2 linked regions of the Homo sapiens genome follow. The protein of the gene in region 2 interacts with the protein of the main gene of each other region in a pairwise test. Each region holds a gene or a part of one and is shown on either strand. Other genes may lie near its edges.

What was found. Proteins that work in one complex are often made in the same cells at the same time.
Region 1: the proteins of AGPAT4 (region 2) and AQP12B interact in binary tests that used the Homo sapiens proteins (3 or more experiments, as listed by UniProt).

The regions. Positions count from the first base shown.
Region 1 is NC_000002.12:240,675,918-240,679,926, forward strand, and holds the end of AQP12B (putative aquaporin-12B), read right to left. Parts: intron 3,868-4,009; coding exon of another isoform or gene 3,569-3,867; exon of another isoform or gene 3,522-3,568; coding exon of another isoform or gene 3,355-3,521; exon of another isoform or gene 3,106-3,354; coding exon of another isoform or gene 3,006-3,105; exon of another isoform or gene 2,894-3,005; intron 2,462-2,893; coding exon of another isoform or gene 2,424-2,461; intron 1,803-2,423; coding exon of another isoform or gene 1,682-1,802; intron 828-1,681; coding exon 628-827; coding exon of another isoform or gene 609-627; 3' UTR 501-608; downstream 1-500. UniProt on the Homo sapiens protein: Putative aquaporin. Could form homotetrameric transmembrane channels, with each monomer independently mediating water transport across the plasma membrane along its osmotic gradient.
Region 2 is NC_000006.12:161,131,031-161,138,071, reverse strand, and holds part of AGPAT4 (1-acyl-sn-glycerol-3-phosphate acyltransferase delta), read left to right. Parts: intron 1-1,437; coding exon 1,438-1,532; 3' UTR 1,533-7,041. UniProt on the Homo sapiens protein: Converts 1-acyl-sn-glycerol-3-phosphate (lysophosphatidic acid or LPA) into 1,2-diacyl-sn-glycerol-3-phosphate (phosphatidic acid or PA) by incorporating an acyl moiety at the sn-2 position of the glycerol backbone.

The sequences.
Region 1 (4,009 bases), on a different chromosome or scaffold from region 2:
CCGTTATCTCCTTTGGGTGGAAGTTTCCAGACCGGCTCTGTTCTTTGGGAAGGAAATGGCTGGAGGTGCCATGCCTCCAGGTCCCAGTTCTGCCACCAAGGTCTCAGTGATTGACCTGGCTTTGGGCGGCGAGCGGACCATGGTCCTGACGGTCGCGAACTCAGGGCCCGTGGGACTGGGTGCCCTGTGCCTAGTTCACAAGCCTACAGCCTCAGGCTCCAGCACCATCCTCAGCATCCCATCGGGTCTCAGGCCTCCGTGGCTGTGGGCTCCCTCCCGGGCATGTCCAGGGCTGCAGCATCATCTTGGCAGACTTGGGACCTGGCGGACTCCCTGGGCTCTTCCCTGTCATCCTGCCCTTTCCTCTCCTGCTTCTTCTGTAACAAGAGGCAGGAAGGAGCCCGCGGGAGATGGGGAGACTCGGACCAGCCTCACCGTGTTGCCGCACACCCTTGCCTGCCCCTCCAGAAGCCTCTCTCGGGCCCAGGGGGACACACAGGTCTTAGAAATGGTTTATTGACAAATGGCTTCTGGGGAGGGGGCCAGGATTCCCTCTTAGCTACAGAAGGTTCCAGGGTCCAGCTACAAGCAGGGCCCTCGCACGGGGCTCACACAGAGCAAGGCCACTCAGCTGGAATGTGGCCCCTCAACACCACTGCGCCCAGGCTCCCGGACACTGGACCCCTTTGCAGGGGTCTGGGTGTCCCCTGAGGCCGGGGCCGGCTTCCCTCGGGGTGCTCGGTACTTGTTCTTCTGGCCGTAGAACAGGTTCCTCTGGAAAAGGTGGGGAAGGCGGCCCTGGTGCAGCAGCACAGCCAGGACCATCCCTGCAAGAGAAGGCAGGTCCCAGGTGGGCCGCGGGGCTCCTGGGCCCAAACACAGACAGGACACCCACTCCCAGGCCTGTGCCAGGACAGGCGAGCCAGGCAGCCTGGCCAGGAGCCCCAAGAACCCTGAGGCCCAGCTCCTGCCTGGTCCTGGTCTTCCCGCCCTGGTCATGCCCCTCTCTCTGGGTATGCCAGCCATGGGGACGGGGGCAAGCCGGTGGGGTTCCTTGTACTTCTGGACCACCCTCTGGGATGAGTGACTGGAATTCCCCTCCCCCCACATTGTCCTGAGCCACTCCCAGAGCTTCTGTGGCCATTTTCCTCCGGGACCTGATGTGGCGTCCCAGGGTGGCTGCTTGCAGGGCTGTGGCCTGGCGTAGAGGTGGGGGATGTGAGTGGACAAGAAAGATGTGGATGCCCCTGGGTGGGAGGCTGGGCCTGGCTAAATCCTCATGCGAACGTTCTCCCAGAACTCCAGGAGCAGAGACTCCTAAATCCCCGCCTGCCTTCCAGGTCATTGGGAAGGGCAGGTGTTCCGGGCAGAAGGGGAGAGTAGATCCTCTTCAAGTTTGATCTCACTCCTCTAAGGATTTAACCCACAGTGTGTGAGCTCCACTAGGGCTGGCCTGAGGGGGCCCTGCCTGTCACCACCTGCAGCTGCTGTGGCTCCTGACAGTGGCCCCTGTGCCTACAGCTTGCCTACAGTTGCCCCTCACTCGGCCCTCCAGGCCCACACTGGTCCTAGCTCTGTTCCCAGGAGGGCAGGCCCAGGGAGGCGGGATGACCTGCTCAGGGGTGCTGCCAGCAGGTGCCGGTGGCCGCTCACACCCAGGGAGATAGCCCCATGTCCACACCTGGCTACGGGGCTCCTGGCTGCAGCCTTGGAGCTCCCCAGGGCTCATGCTGATACTGAACTTGTGGATAAAGGGGTTAATGGAAGGACACAAGCCTGTTTTTCGGTTTCCTGAAGCTGCCCTAAGATGACAGGAAAGGGATGCTGTCAGAGGTGTCAAGCATCCAGATGGATGAGACGGGAAGAGACGCAGGAGCACAGCGTGGGGCTGACAAGCATGTGGACGACCAAACACTGCTGACATGGAGGGGCCGGATCGCCCCTCCGCAGGGACGAAAGCTGGGAAACAACCCAGTTCTTCCGCAGATGCCCCATGCTTTCAGAAGCTGGCGCCCGGGTCCCTGTGGGATGGGGTGGCCCTGGGACTCGCCTAGGAGGAGGGACGGCAATTCCGCATGGGAAGCTCCAGGGCCCCAAACCCCAAAATACAGAAGCAGCCAGTGCCCCCCTCCCTGGCCCTGGCAGGAGACAGGTTCCTCTCTAGAGGGGGCATGTGGACTCGAGTATCAGGCCCGCCCAAGCCTGGAGTCCCGCCTGAAACACGGATCCCAGCCTCCTCCTACTTGGCTCCTAGAAGCCGCAAATGCCCTTTGGGCTTCTCCACAGAGGCAGTTCTACAGTGAGAGGTTGCAGCCGGGTGAAGAGTATTTCCCCAGCGACACGCCCTTCCCAGAACACAGGATGTGCCCTTGTTAGAATACGGCCTGGGACATAAAATCAGTGAAATCACGGTGACGTCATACTTGAGTAGAGTGAACCTCCAATTCGATGACTGGTGTCCCTATATGAAGAGAACAGACAATGACACAGAGGAGGCGGCCAGGGGAACCGGCAGACATGGGAGTGCTGCGTCTCCAAGCCCGGGGACACCGGGGGTGCCAGAGGCCCCCGGAGCCCGGAAGAGGCAGGAGGCTCCTCCCCAGCAGCCTCCGAGGAGAGCTGACCCTGTCAGTGCTGCCAGCTCAGACTCCAGCCTCCAGAGCTGGCTGAGCATACAACCCTGTCACGTGAAGCCTCTTCGTTTGCGTCCTTTGCCTTGTAGCCCGTGAAGCCACCACAGGCCATGGTTGGGGCCTGAGAAACTCAGGACGAAACTGAGCTCCCACCCGGAACCCTGCCCAGGCCTCACCGACACTCAAGTGCAGGTCAGAACCAGGACACTATTTCAGACACAGGAGGTCTGAAGTGTACCTGCCAGGTCCCCGTTCTCAGGAAGCTACTGTGAGACGGGCACCAGCAAAAAGAAGGAATCAACCGAAACAGGAGGCGATGAGGAAAGCAGGAAACAGAAATACAACCAGGATCAGTGAAGGGCAGCACCATACCGGAGATGGACGCCTGCGGGTAACCCGGAGCTGCGGATCCTCGGGGGAGACGCTGCCCACACAGAGCACTGGTGCTGAACTAAGGAAAGCACCCAGAAGCCTGGGCAGGAGAGAGTCCAGGACCTCGTCACCCGCAGGAAGCAAGGCCTGTGCAGGAGCGGAGAGGCCTCCGGGGCCACCACAGCTCACCCGGGCCGTGTTTCCATGCCAGGGAACTAGAGGGGGCTCTGGAGCTGATCAGGAGGAAGAGGCCGACCCACCCGGAGTGAAGGATCCGCAGGAGGAGCGTGGGGAGGCAAGGAAAGAACATCCGCCCCCCACATCCCAGGAGACAGCCCAGGGTTGATACCTGAACTGAAGAGTCTCGGAGAAGCCCTGCAGGCCCAGTGTGTGGGGACAGAGAGGCCAACACGGAGCTGTTCCTAGCAGAGGGCAGTGCTGCCTCGGCAACGGGGGCAGGAGGGGGTTCCTGATGCACTTCGTATGCTTCCTAGGACCCTGCACATGCCTGAGAGACTGTGACCACATCAGAACCATGGCGACAAATCACGATGACGTCAGTGTCACCATCGCAGGGCCAGGTGCCTGAGAGACCCCCAGCTCCTGTCTTTCCCCCCAAGGGGAGGCTGAGGCATTGCCCCTGAGACCTCCCCAGTGTAGAGCCAGCAGAAGCTGAAAAAAGCTTCCAGAATTCCATAGGAACCCAGCTGCCCTTCTGGTACCTCAGTGAGGTGGAGCCGAGTGTCTGAGAGCAGGTGCAGGAGAAGGTGTGGGCTCCACCTGGGCCTCTGAAGCCAGGGGCCAGAATCCCCAGATCTAGGTCCAAGAGGGGGCTCCATGACCTCCCCATGCTGCTCCTCTGCTTGGATCCAGGATATAAGAAAGGAGGGGCACACACTGTGGGGGAACTCTGGGGTCCCCTGTGTGCATCAGCGAGTCCCGGGTCTGCCCCACCAGGATGCAAAGGGCCTGGCTGCTCCAGCCCCATGCTCACAGCCCTATAA
Region 2 (7,041 bases):
CAACCCTTCTGCTTCAATAGCAGGCAACAGCAAGGCACACACACACCCACGCCGTCTTGGAGAGGGGCCCCTTCAGGATGAAGGCTGCAGACAGGGCCACCCAGCTGTGTAGCGAGTACCAAAAAAAGAAGCCTGAGCACTGCCCAGGGTGCAGTGTGGACACAGGGCGTCTCCAGGAGCATCTGAGGGGTGCAGTATGGACACAGGGAGTCTTCAGGAGCATCTGAGGGGTGCAGTGTGGACACAGGGAGTCTTCAGGAGCATCTGAGGGGTGCAGTGTGGACACAGGGAGTCTTCAGGAGCATCTGAGGGGTGCAGTGTGGACACGGCGTCTCCAGGAGCATCTGAGGAGCTGACTGCCGTGCCCCATTACTCTGAGCCTGCGCCTGACTGCATTCTTCCCTGAAGGACTTTGTGTTTGTGTTCTTTACTCCTCTTCCAAGGCCACACGGTCCACGTTTTACTCACTTCTTTCTGCTCTACAATAACTCCACTCTCACTGTTACTGTTACGCTCCATGCAGGAGCCCTCCAGTTTGTAAATGACCCATGGGAGATGCGTGCCTCCTGCTGGCTGGGCTGGATTCGCCCATCCCAGGCTCTTGCATCCATGTCCCAGTTAGTTTATCGACCGCGATGCTAATGCTAGATAATCCTGTGCATCATGATTTGGGGGATTTCATTCACTTATTCGTCTATCCATTCTTAAGCATGTATTATAAATGGACTGTTTTCCAAGCCCCATGCCCAGTGCTGAGCACATCAAATGATTAAGTCTTGGGCCCTGCACCCAAGGACCTCACCACATCTGCCCGCTCCAGAGGGTGTAGTTGAAATTGCAACTTCTGAGCATTAGGCCCTGCTTTCCAGCTTCCTATATTAAACTGGGCTCCCACGAGGGTCCTGCCCATTCTCTGGTGTAGGCAAATCCTGCCGTCAGAGGAGAGGGCGGGGATTTTCTCACTGCTCTAACGCTTGCACCAAAAGCAGTGCTGAAACGTGTTGGGCACTCGATACTCGAGCTCTTGCGTCTTCCAGGCTCCTGGTCTGTTCTTTATAAAACTTCGCTGAACATGCCCTGTTAACTTCCTGTCCCTTATTCACAAAAGAATCCTCTTTACCTGGGGGTCAGCAGAGGAAGCCAGGGATTTCTCTGAGTCCCTGCGAACGGCTGTGCATGGCTTGCCAAATCATTCACCTTCAGGGTCCAAGGAGGAAAACCCCCACCAGAGCAGCCTTGCTTTGTCTTAATGTCACATGGATGTCCACACTCAAGGATGATTGTAAAGCCGGCAGGATGATGGCACCTCAAACCCGCCAGCCAGCTCTGAGCTGGCGCTTGTGATTTGCGGCCACGGGCCTTCTCACTTGCTCTGTGGGAAAACGGCCCTGTAGTCTGTTTGGGCTACTCCTAACTCTGCTCTCCTTGTCTCTGCAGCCTCCGTGGGAGTTCGATGGATGATTGGTGTGACGGAAATTGACAAGGGCTCTGCCTACGGCAACTCTGACAGCAAGCAGAAACTGAATGACTGACTCAGGGAGGTGTCACCATCCGAAGGGAACCTTGGGGAACTGGTGGCCTCTGCATATCCTCCTTAGTGGGACACGGTGACAAAGGCTGGGTGAGCCCCTGCTGGGCACGGCGGAAGTCACGACCTCTCCAGCCAGGGAGTCTGGTCTCAAGGCCGGATGGGGAGGAAGATGTTTTGTAATCTTTTTTTCCCCATGTGCTTTAGTGGGCTTTGGTTTTCTTTTTGTGCGAGTGTGTGTGAGAATGGCTGTGTGGTGAGTGTGAACTTTGTTCTGTGATCATAGAAAGGGTATTTTAGGCTGCAGGGGAGGGCAGGGCTGGGGACCGAAGGGGACAAGTTCCCCTTTCATCCTTTGGTGCTGAGTTTTCTGTAACCCTTGGTTGCCAGAGATAAAGTGAAAAGTGCTTTAGGTGAGATGACTAAATTATGCCTCCAAGAAAAAAAAATTAAAGTGCTTTTCTGGGTCATCTGTGGTGTATGTTGACATGGACCGCTGCCCCTCCATCCTGCCCTTGCCCGTGGCTTTGGTGTTTCAGATCCTACTCACGGGAGGCAGCTGCCGCGGAGGTGTGGGCAGCTGAGAGGGGTGGGCAGGCCAGCACAGCTCCTGGCAGGAGACACAGGTCCAGGAGCCCGTGAGCATTTGTGAGAGCAGAGATGGCAAGCACGTGCGTGGAGACCAACGAAGCGTGTCCCTGGCACACAGCAAGGGAGAGTTTCGCTCGGTCTCTGCAGTGCAGTCTCCTGGCGTAAGTCTTGAAGATGGACCCAACTCCCTGAAGAAATGGATCTTGAAATTGAACACAAACATCATGAACGTACAGCCTGGGCATTCTGCAGTGATTTGTGAGATGAGCTTGCATCGACTGTTCCTCTCAGCAGTGACAGCCAAAGTCACCCCTGATAAAATGCAGTTTCACTTTATAAAATGCCTCGCCCCTTCCCAGCATGTAGAGCTTGTCTGCAGCCCTAAAGGAGCCAGGTCCTGCTCTGATGAGGGTCAAATCAGAGCCGACATCCCATGTACAAAAAACCCCCAGGCTTCTGCCTTCCTTCCGGGCTCCTGTCTGCTCCCATTTTACTCCACGGAATAGTTCTGCCCTGTAGCATCTCCAGCGGCCTTTGCAGACTGCTGTCAGCCAACAGGTGCCAAAAATGCAAAAGAAGAAGAAACTAAAAGCAGTGCTATTTTTGCAGAACAAATGCTAGCTATTAAATCATCTTAGGCCAAGACACCAATGGCACTTGGACCGATAGGTATTTGGAGCATGAGTTAGGAAGGATATGTCTTTCTCCAGGTGCGCAGCTGAAAGTTGCTGAGAAAAGCTGCCTGTGTTGCTGTGGTAACATGAGAAGGAATGAACAGCTCTATACAAAAACTGGCCACACATTATAAGGCCTATTCTATGCAGTTATGTTTTTGGCTATTTGCTCATTTAGTCATTGTTTATCAACCAAACTAGGTAAGCCAAGGAGTTACAAGACAGCTCTAGAGAAGCTCCCTCTGCTTACAGGACAATAATGCATTGTTTGTTTGTTGATACAAATGAATTATTTGAATCCACAGAAGTGAAAAAGGGAAAAAATCCTGGCTGACTTGTGGGAAGAGCGTACTGCAGAGCCTAGGGCCTGAGTTAACTCGCTGGCGGCCCTGCAGGCAGGCTTGATGGGAGCGCCCAGCACATCTGCCCACCCTGCACAGGGCATGAAGCACCGTGTGCAGAGATCTGTGGGCAAAAGCCCAGGACGTGACCTTAGGCAAGAGGGGTCCTTGGAGAAGTGGAGGTGTGCATGGTGTGTAGCCTTGCGTGTCTGTGAGCACGCCCTAGTGGACCTGCGCCTGGATTATCGGGCCAGTCTCTCGGAGGGGTCCGTGATGCTGAGTTACGCCATTCACCTGAACTCTGCAGCTCATCGGCTGTAGGATTTGGGTGAGACACTTTTCCTTGCTGACTCATTTCCCCATCTGCAAAATGGGGGTGACGATATCTACCTCTTGGGGTGTGTCAAGGGTAAAAGAGCACACTTTAAGAATCCTAAAGCACTAAGCCAAGGATGAAAGACTAGAAAGCTGCCTCTATGTTGCTACTCTCAAAAATGCTCAGAAATTTTCTTGTCGTACTAAAAATGTGTTATTTTTCTCATTTTCATTCTTCCATTCAACACAGAAGTAATCTAAGTAAGTTCTAAAAACATAGATCCGGGGGCCCACAGACATTCAATTTTCTTCTGAATTGGCTCTGGTATCACACAACACACAAGCAAGCAAACAGCCTGCCTGCTAGGGCCTTGGGTTCCAGGCTGGAGGAATGCAGGCAGAAATCTCTTAGGAAATAACTAAGTGAGCGCCAAGTTTTGAATTGCCTTAGAGCCGAAAGAGAATGTGGCGTGCTGGGGAGAGATCTGGACCTCTTTCTCATCAGTCATTTGACCTGTCCACGAAGAACAATTTTGTTATGCAGCCTGGGAACCTGGTTTCCTTACACCCTGCGCCCTTAATGACACAGACAACCACGGGTACTCCTGGACGGAAGCTCATCACGCCTCCTCAAATACCTTCACCCATGTTCAGGTCACACGGAGGTCACCATCTCCTCAGCACACAACAACTGCTTTGGTTCCCAGGGTTATTTTTTCTACGAGTTGAAAACCCACGGAGCCTAAGCCATCTTTTTGTCCCCTAAGGAGAGCCCCATAGACTAAGAGCTACACTTCCTGTCTGTCTTTCCCACCTTTCCATCTCATTCTAGCTTAAAGCTTATCACGCTACTGAGAGCCTGTTCTGTAGTTCAAGGTGGCAGAGAAAAATACGAACCTTGAGTGAAATCTGGAGAGCAGTGCAGGGTCATCCCCAGACGTGACGGGCCATATCCTAGGCGACTCCTGCAGCTTATAGAAGCAGGGAATTTAATGGACTTCTTCCAGGAAAGCCAGCCCACGGGGACTCTTAAAAAGACACCAACCATTTGGAAGATGCAGCTTGAGGTCTGGGGGACTGGACTGATTCTGCCACCATATAGTGAACACGATTAATCGGGAGGAAGAAGTAAGGCACTCTGTGAGTTAGTCTACCACCCTATTGACTTTGACAGAGAGAAAACCAACTTTTTTCATATGATCACACAGTAGTACTGGAATATCTCGACTGCAATATCCTCTAAACAAATGCATGCAAAGCTTTGTAAAAGCAGCTGATGATTAAAAAAATTTTAAAACATTAGGGTTTTTCTAATATATCCATATGTGGGACAGTGATTTAAATGTCATTAATTGTCCAGCCACAACTTGTAACAGTGATGTGAAAGACACAAAAAAGGCCCCACTGGAGTGGAGGAGTGGTCTGGCTGGTCCCCAAGCAAAACAGAATGGGCTTCGCATAGGCTTTAGAACTTATTCATAAATATTGACCAAAGTGTGAAGCAAGGTATCCAGTGAAGATTCTCTAGGGTCTCTACTTCTGCTCAAGAGATTTAATCCAGCTTTCTCTAAAGCAGTGGTCCAGACTTGCCACATACTAGGTTAAAGATAAAGTGAGAAAAACAAATACTTTGGTTTGCACGTCTCTTGAGGGGCCCTAGGCTGTATGGAGGAATATTTAGAGGAATATTTGTGAGCTGCCATTTGTGTTTAAAAGAACATGAAAGCAAGACGGGCCCTAACCCGCCTGTGTCTGTAGCTGACCAGGAGGCCACTGCTTCCTTCCCCCAGAGCTTCTAGGAGAGCCCCCCAAAATGCAACTCTCCAAGGTCCTGTGGAGTAGTCCCCTCATAATGCCTCCACCACACCTGTGTCTCACGATGCCTTAACTGACGTAGCTCCTAAGTGATGTTCACAGAGAAGGAAATACTTAGGCAAGCCCATGTGTAACATGCTCACAGATGTGCTGGCTTTGCCAATGCTTTCGGACTCCACCATGCTTTCTGATTCTTCTGGTCCTAGTCACGCCTTGGCACGGGGCAGAAGCGGCCGAGCTATGCTGACAGGTGCTGCTGAGAGCCAACAGCCATTCAGCCGAGAAGGCGTTTCTAGGTGAGGGCATGAGAGCTGGCATTCCAGGCTGCTGAGTGCGGCATCTGCAGGTGCACCACATTGCTCCACGGTGTGTTCAGAAGAGACCAGCATCTTGAATCTCAGGCTCTGGGCTCATTCTTTGCCTCTGCCAAGGGACCATTCAGGGGCTTCAAGCCAGCTGCTGAAAATCCCCCTTTTCTGGATTTTTCCCCATCTATATAAGGATATGGTGGCTGTGTGGACAAGAAATTGGTTTCATCTCAGAAGGGTGCTTCCCTACAAAGATCTTCAGAAATTTAATTGAAAACAATTTTTTGAACTTTTTTTGTTTGGCCAGGATGAATGAAGCTGAAGTCACATCCTGAATGTGCATGCCAGACAAAGGGTAAGCAAGCAGTCTTTACAAATGCCAATCCCTCTGCACTCCAAAACCGGAGCCCGTAATGAAGGCCCAGGTTCCAGTCATCACAGGATCCCCCAAGCCAGCACAGTGCCTGATGCCTCCCTAGGCATTAGCACATCCCAGCACTCTAATTCACATCCTCAGCATCCCTGCCTCCTGCATCCAGGGCTTAGGTTGAGTGTTTCCAGAGTGTCAAGTACATTTAAACACAAACCAAATACTCCAGGGTTTTGACCTGTCACAATGGCTTTTGAAAACAACAGACGTACAATTTGAGAGAAGGACTCGATGGACTTCTTAGGCTGAGGACTAAGGACATGTTGCTGTTCCTCTTGGTCCAGGACATTCAATACCATTCACAGCATTCATCACCAACTGACATAGTATCGATCACGACATTCAACTGTTTGAAATTACTGCTATTTTGGTCAAAAACTAAGAAATCAGAAATTGCACCTACATAGTGTGTCTCCTCATTGGAGTCCCATCTCTCTGAGCACAGGGATGGGCTCCTGAGCTCACAGCCCTGCCCTGCCCCCCCAGCAGGGCCTCACCCTCATGGCCCTCAGTGAATAGTGACTACATGAAGGGGGCACTTACTAGAGGCCTGAGTAATGGAATTTCAATTAGCTTCTGCTTCCCTTTTCTAAAAAAGAACCACCTTTCTTAAGAATAATTAGGCCAAAATAAACTTGAGTAATTTGTACAGTCAATATTTTGAAGTTTCGGAGTTACCAGTGAAATAGCAAAGCTGTTCTCCAGGAAAGGACATCCAGGTTCCCACCCAGGCCTTCCTTCCTCAGCTCCTGCAGCCTCATCCTAGTTTAATATGAAGGTTGTGAATGGGTTAAAAAGCAGTTCTTAAGCACCTACTTAGATCTTTTCAGTATCTGGAAATAGCACCCAGGGCTGTGTTAGTAAAGCTTTTCACTGGGTAAGAGTCATACAATTTTTACATTTAATTTGTTTTTTTAAAACAAGGCAGTCTTGTTTTACATATTGGAATGACTAGATATTTTTTGACATTTCTGGCACCTCTGGTTCTGCTGAATTTTAAGGGAGGTGAGTGGTATGTACACAAAGTTAAGATTGCTGC